Linked DNA regions of Homo sapiens. The protein of the gene in region 2 interacts with the protein of the main gene of each other region in a pairwise test. Each region holds a gene or a part of one and is shown on either strand. Other genes may lie near its edges.

Region 1 (3,579 bases), on a different chromosome or scaffold from region 2:
GTGGAAGGCCTGATGCCCAGCAGGTGCCGCGTGAACAGTGGCTGTTGGTACAGTTTCATATCCATCTATGGGTTCAACAAGCAATGCTTGAGTTCCTGCTGTATTCCCATGCCAGACCCCGTCAATTCCTCCTGTTCTCAGCCTGAGATCACAGAGCCTGCATTGGAACTAGGTCTGGCTTGGCTTGGCTTTATTTTTTTTTAATTCTTTGAGATGGAGTCTCGCTCTGTTGCCCAGGCTGGAGTGCAATGGCACGATCTCAGCTCACTGCAACCTCCACCTCCCGGGTTGAAGCAATTCTCCTGCCTCAGCCTCCTGAGTAGCTGGGATTACAGGCGCCCGCCACTACACCCAGCTAATTTTTTGTATTTTTAGTAGAGACAGGGTTTCACCATGTTGGCCAGGCTGGTCTCAACTCCTGATCTCATGATTTGCCCGCCTCGGCCTCCCAAAGTGCTGGGATTACAGACATGCGCCACCGTGCCCGGGCATTTTTTGTGTTTTTAGTAGAGATGGGGTTTCCTCATGTTGGCCAGACTGGTCTCGAACTCCTGACCGTGAGCAATCTGCCCTCAGCCTCCCAAAGTGCTGGGATTATAGGCTTGAGTCACCACGACTGGCCTTGGCTTGGCTTTTGCTAAAGGCTTTATCTGAGAAATGTTCAGGGGGTACTTTTTTTTTTTTTTGAGACGGAGTCTCACTCTGTTGCCCAGGCTGGAGTGCAGTGGCGCAAGCTCCGCCTCCCAGGTTCACTCCATTCTCCTGCCTCAGCCTCCCGAGTAGCTGGAACTACAGGTGCTCGCCACCATGCCCGGCTAATTTTTTGTATTTTTTGGTAGAGACGGGGTTTCACCATGTTAGCCAGGATAGTCTCGATCTCTTGACCTTATGATCCACTCGCCTCGGCCTCCCAAAGTGCTGGGATTATAGGCGTAAACCACTGCGCCCAGCCTTTTTTTTTTTTTTTTGAGATGGAGTCTCACTCTGTCACCCAGGCTGGAGTGCAGTGGCGCGATCTCGGCTCACTGCAAGCTCCGCCTTCTGAGCTCAAGCGATTCTCCTGCCTCAGCCTCCAGAGTAGCTGGGACTACAGGTGTGCACCACCATGCCCAGCTAATTTTTGTATTTTTAGTAGAGATGGAGTTTTACCATGTTGGCCAAGCTGGTCTTGAACTCCTGACCTCAGGGGATCCACCTGCCTCCGCCTCCCAAAGTTCTGGGATTACAGGTGTAAGCCATCACTGGGCGTGGTGGTGTATGCCTGTAATCCCAGCTACTTGGGAGGCTGAGGCAGGAGAATTGCTTGAACCTGGGAGGCGGAGGTTGTAGTGAGCCGAGATCACGCCATTGCACTCCAGCCTGGGCGACAAGAGCGAAACTCCTTCTCAAAAACAAACAAACAAACAAAAGAAATGAGGGCAGAAGCTAGGCCCCTGTGGGGTGTGCATTTTATTCCTGGTGTGTTGGGCGCCCTAGGATGGCTCTGGGCAGAAGAGGGACATGAAGGTGGTCAGACTCTGGATGCCTCGGGCAGGACTGGTGATTTGTTGGGGCCCCCAACCCTGCCCACCCTTTCCTGGCAGGACCTGGAGACCCGCAATGCGGAGTTGGAGCACCAGCTGCGGGCGATGGAGCGCAGCCTGGAGGAGGCACGGGCAGAGCGGGAGCGGGCGCGGGCTGAGGTGGGCCGGGCAGCGCAGCTGCTGGACGTCAGCCTGTTTGAGCTGAGTGAGCTGCGTGAGGGCCTGGCCCGCCTGGCTGAGGCTGCGCCCTGAGCCGGGGCTGGTTTTCTATGAACGATTCCGGCCTGGGATGCGGGCCAGGCTGCAGGCGGCATAGTTGGGCCCATTCGTCCTGGAAAGGGACTGGGGGGTCCCAACTTAGCCCTGGGTGGGCCGGGCCGGGCTGGGCTGGGGTGGGCCCCAGTCGGCTCTGGTTGTTGGCAGCTTTGGGGCTGTTTTTGAGCTTCTCATTGTGTAGAATTTCTAGATCCCCCGATTACATTTCTAAGCGTGGCTGTGTGTGTGTGGTATGTGGGTATCTGGGCACTTAACATGTCGCCGGCGCCTTTCCCTGCGTCTTTTTGGGTGCCCCTGAATCCATGTAGCAGTTATAAGCCGCTTGCAGATGAGGGGTGAGGCTTGGAGTCCGAGGGGGGTCCAGGCCACACAGCCAGGAAGCTGGCTCTGGTGTCTCTCTGCCTGTCCCCTTGGGCTTAGCCCACATTGTCTGGCCAAATTTGGACTTTCATGGCCCCTTCACTCTGGCCACAAACCCCAGATGTGGCCAGGTGGGTGGCCAGGGAAGCTTATAGCTGCACCCATTCGGCACAGGACTGACCTCACCAAAGCCTCACAGCTGCCTCTGGAGAGCAGGGCAGTTGCTATGCCCATTCTCCAGATGAGGAAACTGGAAGCCCAGAGAAGGGGCTTCAGGGCCCAAAATCCCATGGCCATTCGAGCAGCTGGTGTCTGCAAAACTTTGGGCCTGCCTGGTGGAAATGGACATGGTGTTCTGGGCAGACACCTGAGAAACAACAGCGGCTGCACCCCACCTCTCCTGTCCCCCTGCTCTTCGAAAGTCAGACTGAGGAAGTCAAAAGACCCGTTTATTAAGCACCTCCTGTATGCGGCACCCCTGGGGGGTGACCTTGGGTTGGGGTCACAACCTCCCGGTCATGTTCTTTCTTCCCCTGCAGCCTGAATCTTGGCCAGGGCTCAGGGAAGGGACCAGCCAGTGGTTTCGGGGCAGAGGAGCAGGGCCCGCACAACACGAGCGCCCACGGGTTCTGCTGTGGGGCACTGGGTAGGCCCCCGGGAAGGGCTGCTGCCCCCAAGGAAGGTTCCTCCGACCCTCAGCTCCATGGACGAGTCAAGGACTGGGCAGATGGCCGTGTGGGGCTCAGACCAGGCCCTGGGAGGGGACTGGGCCTGAGTGGGACCCAGACGGTGTCCTGGGTGGACGCCCCTTGTGGCCAGCCCTGCCAGCCTTCTGTCGCTTCAGCGTCTCCTCCACCTTCTCCTTGAAGCGCCGGTTCTTCTGCTTGATCTTGGCCAGCTCAGCCTTGCGCTTGGCCTCCAGGTCAGGGTCCTGGCACAGGGAGGACCAGGGGATGGCTGAGCTGGCGGCCCCCGCCAGGGAACCTGGCCACCCACCCCCTACCTGCGGGCTCGGCCCTCACCTTCCCCTCCAGGATCAGCTGCTTCCGTTTGTTGATCTCCTTCTTTTCGTCAAAGTGGGCCGCCTCCAGTTTCTGGTGGAGGGAAGTGGGGTAAGGAGATGCTGGTCACGGGGGCCCCACCTGGAAGGGAGCACCCCCGGCCCTGGAGAGCACTTTAGTTCCTGCCCGCCTCTGACACTCACGATCTCACACTCTCTTCGCACCACGTTGACCTGTGTGAGGATCTGTAGCACCTCGGCCTCTTCCACGGAGAACTCCTCCAGCTTCTTCTCTGTGGGGACAGCAAAGCCGGGGGTGGGGGTGGGGAGGAGACGTGACATGGAGAGGGAGTTCAGCCAAGTAGTGAGTTCCCCATGCTGTGGGGTATGCAAGGCCATCTGGGGCCATATCAGGTAAGG
Region 2 (9,306 bases):
AGGGGACGGGGAAGTCGCTCCTAGAAATTCTCCCCTCCATCCTAGAGCTTCGGGGTCAGGATTTCTCCTGCTCAGCTCGGGACTTTTTACAGGCACCAAAAGTTATTAGCAACAGAGGGGAGTAGGAGAGGGAACTCCTCCCCCCAGAGTAAGGTAGACACCCAGACCTCAGCGCTAACACCGGGGCTTTCTCCCAACGATAATTAATAGTCAAGGCCAACCCTTTTGGCACGTTTCTTCCTCCCTCCCTCGCGGGTGGCAGAGTTATTTGATTCCCCGAGGCCAGAAACTTTCACTCGAGTTCGCCGGAGAGAGGCCAGCGCCGGCCGTTTTCCGCGGTGCCCACACGTCTCCTTTTTCTTTCTTTCCTCCTCTTCGTCGTCTTCCCAGCCGCAGGCCAGTCGCCAGTCCGCGTAGTTTTGTTTCCTTTCCATCATGCAGAAAATTAATCAGCCCGGACGAGAAGCAGAGAGGAGCATGGCGGCCTGTAATTAAGGGACGTGTGCCCCTCGGATTATCTCGTTAGTTTATCAAGAAAACATTTATTATAATTAATTCTCGGACGAGGTAATTATTGTTGAGCGAGGACACAGCAACTGGTAGATGGGCTTCTTGGAAGAAAAAAAAAACAAGGCGTGGGGGAGGGAGAAGCGACAGATTGCACGAATTGACCGTTAGATATAAGGCTGCGCGGGGGGCGCGGGCAGTGGAGCGGGACCTCGGGCGCCAGGCCTGCGGGGCTGCGGGGCTGCGGGGCTGCGGGGCTGCGGGGCTGCCGGGCAGGAACGCGGGACCCAGGCACTCGCGCCCGGAGGTGCGGTCGCCGACCGGCTGCCGGAACTCGCCGCGCGACCGCGGTCAGCTTCTAGGTATGAGTTCTCCAGAGGCCACCTCGTGAGCAGTCATAGTGAGGCGTGGATTTTTCAAAAGTTATTTCTTTTCCCCGTTCTGGACCCTGCTTCGAGAGGAAAAGAGCTTTGAAAGTTAGATTGAAGGGCCCATGCCTTCTATGCAGAGTGCATACCTAGGCCGGTTGTGGAGAGAATCTCTTAGTTTTGGGTTTTGGTTTTCCTCTTTTCCTTTTAAAGGTGGATCCAGGAGCAAAAGTGAAAATAGTCTATTTTGAGAATTTTAGCCATTTTGCAATGGTAAGGGCAAAGGAGCCCCTGGAAGGATCTCGGCCCTGGTGCTTTCTGTGTGTTACTGGCTTTTTATGTTGGAATGTGCTACTTTATTGTATGATGTGTCAGGCATTTCTAATTGGGTGAGAGCTCTACATGTAAGAACATTTCCATATTTCTCAAGGGTACATCTGATATGATTTTACGATTCTCTATAGCACTGTAGTTCAGAATTTTGCAAGGTAGTACGATTAAACAAAAAATCTCCAATCTCCAGTTTAGAGGCTGTTTAAACACATATACAACTGTATTTTAAAGCTGTCGCATATGTGTTTAAACAGCCTCTAAGCTGGAGATTTTTGTTTATTTTCGCAGCCTCCAAAGAACAGCATTTTGAAAAGAAAAGACAATACAAAAACATAAAGTCTGTATTGTAGGGGCAACTAAATTAGTTGTACTGAGGATAATACAAACTCCTCCAAGAAAGACATTTATAAAATTATATTAAGTTAGATCTTAGGGTAGAAAAGCATGACTTTTGTGCTCTGAATTTAAATCAGAAAGAAGTTGCAGTTACTAAGTTTCATTTATGGACTTTTGTGCCTTGCTGTCTTAAGCAACGTAAATATGAAAACCCGGAGTCCTTTAAAGTCAGTGAGACCTTTATCTTGTATCCGCCATTTTGAAGCAATCTCTCATGGTGTCAAAGTTTCAAAGTAGAGATCCTTGCATATAAGTGCCACATTTTAGGAAAATAAAGGCCAGACTTGCAAACTGCCAGTCTATATTAACATCTACTTTGAATCTCTTTGCTGGGGTGGAGGCGGGGAGCTCAGCTGAAGAAAGTAAATAACTTTTCTTTTTCTTCCTTTCTTTTCCCCCTTGAGCTCTTTTTCTTATAGGATTGTAGGAAACTTGAAAGGTAGGGAGAAATTCTACTAGTTTCACAACTTTGGGTGTTTGTGTATCTACTTTCTTCAAAACTAAAATGTGCAAAAGGCAGTTAGAGTTAACAGGAAACTCTGCTGCAGCTGCCGAGGACCCAAATGTCTGAAAATTTGCCTCCCGCAGGATCTGCAGCCTCCACACATCAAAATCAACATGGAAGCAGCTTGCACTACAAATGTGGGGTCCCGTCATTATCTGATTGGTGGGATTCTAACTTTACTTCACAATTTCTGGCAAGCCCTGTGCCAATCTTGAAGACTTTTTTGGAATATGCTTAAATATTTGATGGGTGTCTATTAAAAGTTAAATACTTGTTTGTTTAGCTTTCGTTCCTTAGACACATATAATCAAGATTCTCCAAAACCCTAATAAATCTGTTACTTACCTCGAAATCTAATTACCCAGACTACTAATTAGGTGAAAATGATTACCGGAAATGACTTCAAATGTGGAATAATAGTGGTTGAGCGGTTTTTCCAAGTTTGTGGTTTAGTGAGTTGGTATTTTAGATGTTAAACGCACTGACATTTTAGGTTCGCAGCAGTTGAAAGTGGTAAAAAGCTAAGATAATTAAAATCTCTGCCATGGAAAGGCAACAGTCTGGGGAGAGGTAGATTTCTTGAATTGTTTCTTTGTTTCTCACCAATGGGCTTTGTTATCAGCATTATTTATTTAGCCAAAGAGTTCTTTGTCTCTGCAAATGGCCCCAATCAAGTTTTGTTTGAGACAATTAGCTAGTGCCAGCCAATGAGTCCTATGCAAATGTAGGGATAGGAATGCAATGTGTGCATTTGAAGGCACGGGTTTTTGTTCTTGGGGAAGGCAGATTGTAATTGCTTTCTTCGGGTACTTTTTTTTTTTTTTTAAGTTTAGGGTGGGGGTGGGGAAGACAGGTTTATCTGGTCTCCTTCCATCCCCTCTAGTTCCAGAGCAGCTGGGGGTGGGGGTGGGGATGGGGGTGGGGGGAGTGTCTGCAAGTCCTTTAAAAGCCTCTGCCTCGCCTAGTCCGTGCTCTTTTTAAGTTAGTGCTGGAACGTGGAAGAGCTGCTGCCTCCGAAGCAGTAAACCAGCCCCTCTGTTTGTTTGTTTGCTTTGCCCTTAGTTCCACTGCTCCAAACCCACCCACCAAGGACTCTGAACCTGTCCACCCCGGGCGCATCAAGATCTTCCAGCTGGGTACCCCCGATTTGGGCCGACTTTGCACCTCCAAACAACCTTAGCATGATGTCTTATCTTAAGCAACCGCCTTACGCAGTCAATGGGCTGAGTCTGACCACTTCGGGTATGGACTTGCTGCACCCCTCCGTGGGCTACCCGGGTAAGTGAGCCCTGCTGCACTCCCGCACCCCTCTTCCCCATGCCCACCCTCCGGGGATGCAACACCCTGTTCCCATGGAACACGGGGGTTGGCAGTCACACTGTCCCCACCCAGCTTCAGGCTTGGTCTCCTCTAGGTTTGCCTTCTGAGGAAGCAGTCCCAGGGCATTTACTGACCAAGCAGAGAACAGGGGTTGGGAAAAGTGAGTAGGTGGGTCTGCAACCGTTACAATCACATCACTTTATTCTTAATTCGAGTAAATAAGGATTGGCATCAGAGTGGGATGAGGAAGGTTACTGTCCTTGTCATTTGGGCAAAAGACCCCTACCCATATCTCAATGACCAATTCCTCAGAAGTGTCCTCTTGGAGAAGCTGAGTTTTCCCTCCGTAAGTCCTTAGCACTCTCGGGCTTCGCAGTTGTTCCCTCCATGCCCAGGCCTTCCCCTATGACCTCCAGAGCCTGCTTTAATCCCAAGAGGCGTGACTTCCTCCAAATGCGGGTGCTTTCCTTTCCAATCAGATATGTTTAAAAATCCTCCCAGGAGTATGAACTATGTCCCCATTTTAAAGATGGAGGAACAAAGGCCCATGGTGTGCTAAAAACCATGGGAACAGGATCCAGATTTCCCCCATCAATTCGAGCTGCCAGTCTGTCCTCGGAGATCCTTTGACTTCTTGGAATAGCCTTTTTGTGTTGTGGTTTGGGGGTTGATCTTGGAGAACTTTTTTGTGTGTCTTTTAAAAAATGTTTCATTTGTTAACTTTCCAAGTGATGCTCTGATTGGAGCAATCTCAACACCAAGAAGAGTAGGGAAAGAAGCAGCGTGTGTCCTGGGTCCCCGGGGAGCAAGGCTGGGGAGACGGTGGGGAGAGCATTGGTAGGCTCCCGGCTGAAGGGCTGTGAGGAACGGGGGACTGCTGCGGGGTGGAGGGCAGGGGCGTCGGAGAACCCGCGGAAACGCCTATGACTGAGAAACTGCTCCCCCACCCTAAAGGGCCCTGGGCTTCTTGTCCCGCAGCCACCCCCCGGAAACAGCGCCGGGAGAGGACGACGTTCACTCGGGCGCAGCTAGATGTGCTGGAAGCACTGTTTGCCAAGACCCGGTACCCAGACATCTTCATGCGAGAGGAGGTGGCACTGAAAATCAACTTGCCCGAGTCGAGGGTGCAGGTAGGGCAGATGCAGGCAGAACCATCCTTCCTGATCATGCCACCCTTCCCGAGTATGGGACTGTGGAGAGCCCCAGGTCTTTCAGAGGACTGAAGGAAGGCTTGAAATTCTCCTTCACTCACTAAGGGGCCAGGAAACTATTCTCCTTCTGCCCTTTTTTGCCTGCCCGTCACCACTTAATCCCGTAAGCAAGGGTCTTCAAGGCCCGGGTTGCTGGTGGAGAGAGACCCATCCTTGAGCAGGTTTCAAGAGTAGTCACGTGGTGTTGTAACCCTTCCCTTCCTCTGTATAGAAATCCTCTCCTATTCTCATGGACTTGTACGTGTGAAAGCAGCTTAGCTCTTGGACAGTCCAAGTATTTTTACAGATGAAAAAATAGAGTAAATGACTTGCTCAAGGTCATAACTAAGTTTGGTGGCAGAGTCAGGGTATAGACGCAGCTGGTGCTTTTACCAAATAAATCAACACAAAAAGAATGTATTTTCCTTGACTTCTTAGGGATTGAAGAGAATTTTCTAGTTCTGAGCCATTTAACAGATAAAATATCTACATAATGTCTCTAGTGACACCCCTCTTGTTTTAGTTCCCCTAAACTTGACCTTAAACTGGAGAGGGAAGGTCAACTCCAGCTTGCCTTGTGAGTGAGCCCTGTACAGAATTCTCTGCAAAGTGTTTAGCACATAAACCACATACACACCTGGGCCTCTCCTTCGGCTAGAATATGTTTATGAAAGCGACAGACATCAGTGTCAGCTGCAAATTGGGAAAGGGGCTTTTTCAAAGTAGGTTAGAGGAAGTTTTAGCACTTGCAAGGCTTGAACCAAAGTCCTCACTAGGAGAAAACAAATGGCTCCAAATGGTTGGTGGTCTTGAGCTTGGCCTTGGTGGCCTCACTTTTACCACAGTTACGGCACCCATACAGAGAGCTCATTCAAAAGTTCAGCTAAGGATTTGTCCTCCAGAAAATGCCAGTAGTTCCTCTTCTAAGCCCCCTCGTACACCAATCATAGCTCCTTCATTGCAGAACATGAACAGGGCTGGTAAAGAGAATTGTCAAGATTGCAGCAGGGGGTTGAAGTGGTAAGTCAGTAAACACAGCACAGGAGACTGAGTCTATGTGCTGAGTGGCACTACTCTAACAACACAGACTCGAGTCCCAGAGACTAGCAGGTCTGTGCTCCAGCTCAAAGCAGAGTGCATGTAAGTCACTCCTTTTACCACAAAGAAGCTTTTAGCAAATAGTGGCTTTCAGACCTCTTTCTTCAACAAGATCATGTCTTCCCCTTGGAGCTTTGTTCTGTGAGTCTTTCTAAGAGAGACAGAAGGGTGATGGAACCAACCAACCTCTATATTAGCAGTTGCTTCCTGGAAGATGAACTGTAAATGAATTTAGGCTGTTCCTGTTAGCCTGTAACAACAGAATTGCTTTCTCTCACTTCTCATGTATTTCCCTCCAAAAGACAGAGATACATTCTATTCCTCTGTGAGAGTGTTCCAAAATATAGCTGGGTCTATGTGTATGTGTGTGTTAGAGGCGAAATAAGATAGGAAAGTGATGTGGAGAGTTTTTAGCTATATGATTTGGGGGATTATCTTAAATGTTATTCTGGGCAAGAAATAAGACAGTGTCAAGTGTTTTTAGACAGAGCCTCCCCAACTTTCTTACAAGTCCAGGAGTTTATATGAGAGTACCACATAATAGGTCTTCAGTGGCAGGGGAAATTGTGTGTTTAGCTGATCTGCCCATGTAGGATAGATTTATAATACGGGAGCCATTCTTGTCCTTAAGGAACTATCAAAACCGAGTTAAAGAATTTTCTTTCCCTTCCAAGGTATGGTTTAAGAATCGAAGAGCTAAGTGCCGCCAACAACAGCAACAACAGCAGAATGGAGGTCAAAACAAAGTGAGACCTGCCAAAAAGAAGACATCTCCAGCTCGGGAAGTGAGTTCAGAGAGTGGAACAAGTGGCCAATTCACTCCCCCCTCTAGCACCTCAGTCCCGACCATTGCCAGCAGCAGTGCTCCTGTGTCTATCTGGAGCCCAGCTTCCATCTCCCCACTGTCAGATCCCTTGTCCACCTCCTCTTCCTGCATGCAGAGGTCCTATCCCATGACCTATACTCAGGCTTCAGGTTATAGTCAAGGATATGCTGGCTCAACTTCCTACTTTGGGGGCATGGACTGTGGATCATATTTGACCCCTATGCATCACCAGCTTCCCGGACCAGGGGCCACACTCAGTCCCATGGGTACCAATGCAGTCACCAGCCATCTCAATCAGTCCCCAGCTTCTCTTTCCACCCAGGGATATGGAGCTTCAAGCTTGGGTTTTAACTCAACCACTGATTGCTTGGATTATAAGGACCAAACTGCCTCCTGGAAGCTTAACTTCAATGCTGACTGCTTGGATTATAAAGATCAGACATCCTCGTGGAAATTCCAGGTTTTGTGAAGACCTGTAGAACCTCTTTTTGTGGGTGATTTTTAAATATACTGGGCTGGACATTCCAGTTTTAGCCAGGCATTGGTTAAAAGAGTTAGATGGGATGATGCTCAGACTCATCTGATCAAAGTTCCGAGAGGCATAGAAGGAAAAACGAAGGGCCTTAGAGGGGCCTACAAACCAGCAACATGAAATGGACAAACCAATCTGCTTAAGATCCTGTCATAGTTTTAGATCATTGGTTATCCTGATTTGCAAAGTGATCAAAAGCATTCTAGCCATGTGCAACCAAACACCACCAAAAATAAAATCAAACAAAACTAAGTTGTGAAGGAAGGGAGGGAAGGTCATAGCCTTCTTAAGCAGAGGTGTTCCATTGTTTTAGCCAATCCTTGGTTGAATCTTAGGAATGAACAGTGTCTCAAGCTCATTCACGTTTCATGACCAACTGGTAGTTGGCACTGAAAAAACTTTTCAGGGCTGTGTGAATTGTGTGACTGATTGTCCTAGATGCACTACTTTATTTAAAAAATAATGTTCATAAGGAGTCAATATGTAGTTTAAGAGACAATCAGTGTGTGTCTTATAAATGGTACATCTGTGGTTTTTAATCTGTGCTAGACTTCAAAACTGTGATCTCCTGTTATTGTATGCAACCTTGAACTCCACCTCTGCAGGGGTTCTTCTGTGATTAAATAGGTTATAATTATAAGCAAAATTCAGAGCAACTGAGTACTGATCTAAAAAGATTACCTTTGGCTGGAGGTGAGCTGCACTGAAACTTTACGACAAAATGTCTCTGGACAAAGAGAGTCAGAGAAGAGAAGCAAAAGGACACTAATTCATCTGTAATTTACTGTTGGTAAGCCTAGCAGTAAAGAGACATTGGTCAATTGCTCTGACCCTGATGAATTATTAAACTGAGATCATTGTCGTTTATGCTTGCAGATGTTAAATGGAAAAGTTATATATGCATAAACCTTTTCTTCCTGGATTTGGCAGATATGTATAATTATATTAAAATGGTTCTAGCACAACATTGGGTCCAGTTTAATTTTACACCGCTATTTATGAATAAGAAGCCTACATTCAGCCTTTCCTCCCCAAAACACGTTTTTCTTAGGACAGAGAGTAAATTAGCAAACTTATTTTTACTTTTTTTTTTTGCTAATCTATGCATAAAATAGATATGAATGACAGTGGTAGGTAGACTTTTTGTGACTTTCATCAGGATTGCTCTGAAATTGAGTTTGGAGAGCCTAACAACAAGATCTTGTTTTCCTTGCTTTTCCCTCCCTACTTCAAACCTGAACGATTTCTTAGGCACTTTATTAGAATGTTTTAAAATATATCAAGTTTTTAAGAGGGAGGAGGAGAATTGGAGTATCTCTGAAAACATGAGAATGACAAGAATTTCTTGTTACTATTCTCTTATTTGATTAAGGGGATTTTTTTTTTTTAACTTCCAAAAACTGAGGTAAACATGAGAGGGAGTGTAATCAGAATCTGAAAGTAATTCAGGCAGAAATGATTCCTGAACAAAAGAGTTTCAGAAAAGTTTTAAAACCTATAATTTCAGTAGTTGAACATAAGGCACCCTGGTCAGTTTGTGTGTATGTGTTTAAGAAAGTGCCGAGGGGGAAAAAATGGGTCCCTTTTCAGTTGTACCTGCATTTTGTAAACCAGTCACCAGAAAAGACAAATGGGCCAATGATCATGGTGCTCCTCAGGTAAAAGCAATATTTAATTTCATTTTAAGCTGCTTAAGCTCTTACAGCTGACCAAAATTAAGTGACTCTTGATTGTAACGTTTTAAATGAAGGTTAGCAGTTGCAACCATTTTGTTTTCTGGCTATTTCATTTTTCCGGTCCCTGGCTGCGCATGCTCTCTTGAACTCTGTAATTTTTCCTAATAAGTAAATTGGTTCGCTGGTAAAGGAAATGCAATAGTTTGCAACCAAAATTTGAGGCCAAATTTGATGGCAAGAGTTTTCAGCACCTATTGATAACCTTCAACATACTGTAGTTTACACGAAGTTAAATTGGGGCCTGAGGTTTACCCAGATTCAGTGTCTTAATCTCCCAGCTTTTCTTCTGCAACAGTAATGCAGAATCAAAATAACCATTTTCTACCATTGCCTTCAGTTTTCAGGATGTCCCGCAAGGGGCAGGGAAAGATTACCCCTTCTTTAAAAACAATAATGACGATAAACATTGGGCTACTCAGCAAATAACGCAGTTGGCAGTTTCTCTCCTGAAACTTTAAAAAAAAGGTCAGAAAGAAGAGGCACTGAGCACCCTCT

What was found. The genes of interacting proteins can lie anywhere in the genome.
Region 1: the proteins of OTX2 (region 2) and HOMER3 interact in binary tests that used the Homo sapiens proteins (3 or more experiments, as listed by UniProt).

The regions. Positions count from the first base shown.
Region 1 is NC_000019.10:18,927,639-18,931,217, reverse strand, and holds the end of HOMER3 (homer protein homolog 3), read left to right. Parts: intron 1-1,583; coding exon 1,584-1,775; 3' UTR 1,776-2,015; downstream 2,016-3,579. Other genes in the region: probable ATP-dependent RNA helicase DDX49, read right to left, coding at 2,902-3,090, 3,182-3,253, 3,364-3,452. UniProt on the Homo sapiens protein: Postsynaptic density scaffolding protein. Binds and cross-links cytoplasmic regions of GRM1, GRM5, ITPR1, DNM3, RYR1, RYR2, SHANK1 and SHANK3.
Region 2 is NC_000014.9:56,799,441-56,808,746, reverse strand, and holds the end of OTX2 (homeobox protein OTX2), read left to right. Parts: intron 1-3,079; exon of another isoform or gene 3,080-3,171; 5' UTR 3,172-3,290; coding exon 3,291-3,387; intron 3,388-4,383; coding exon 4,384-4,559; intron 4,560-6,391; coding exon 6,392-7,012; 3' UTR 7,013-8,842; downstream 8,843-9,306. UniProt on the Homo sapiens protein: Transcription factor probably involved in the development of the brain and the sense organs. Can bind to the bicoid/BCD target sequence (BTS): 5'-TCTAATCCC-3'.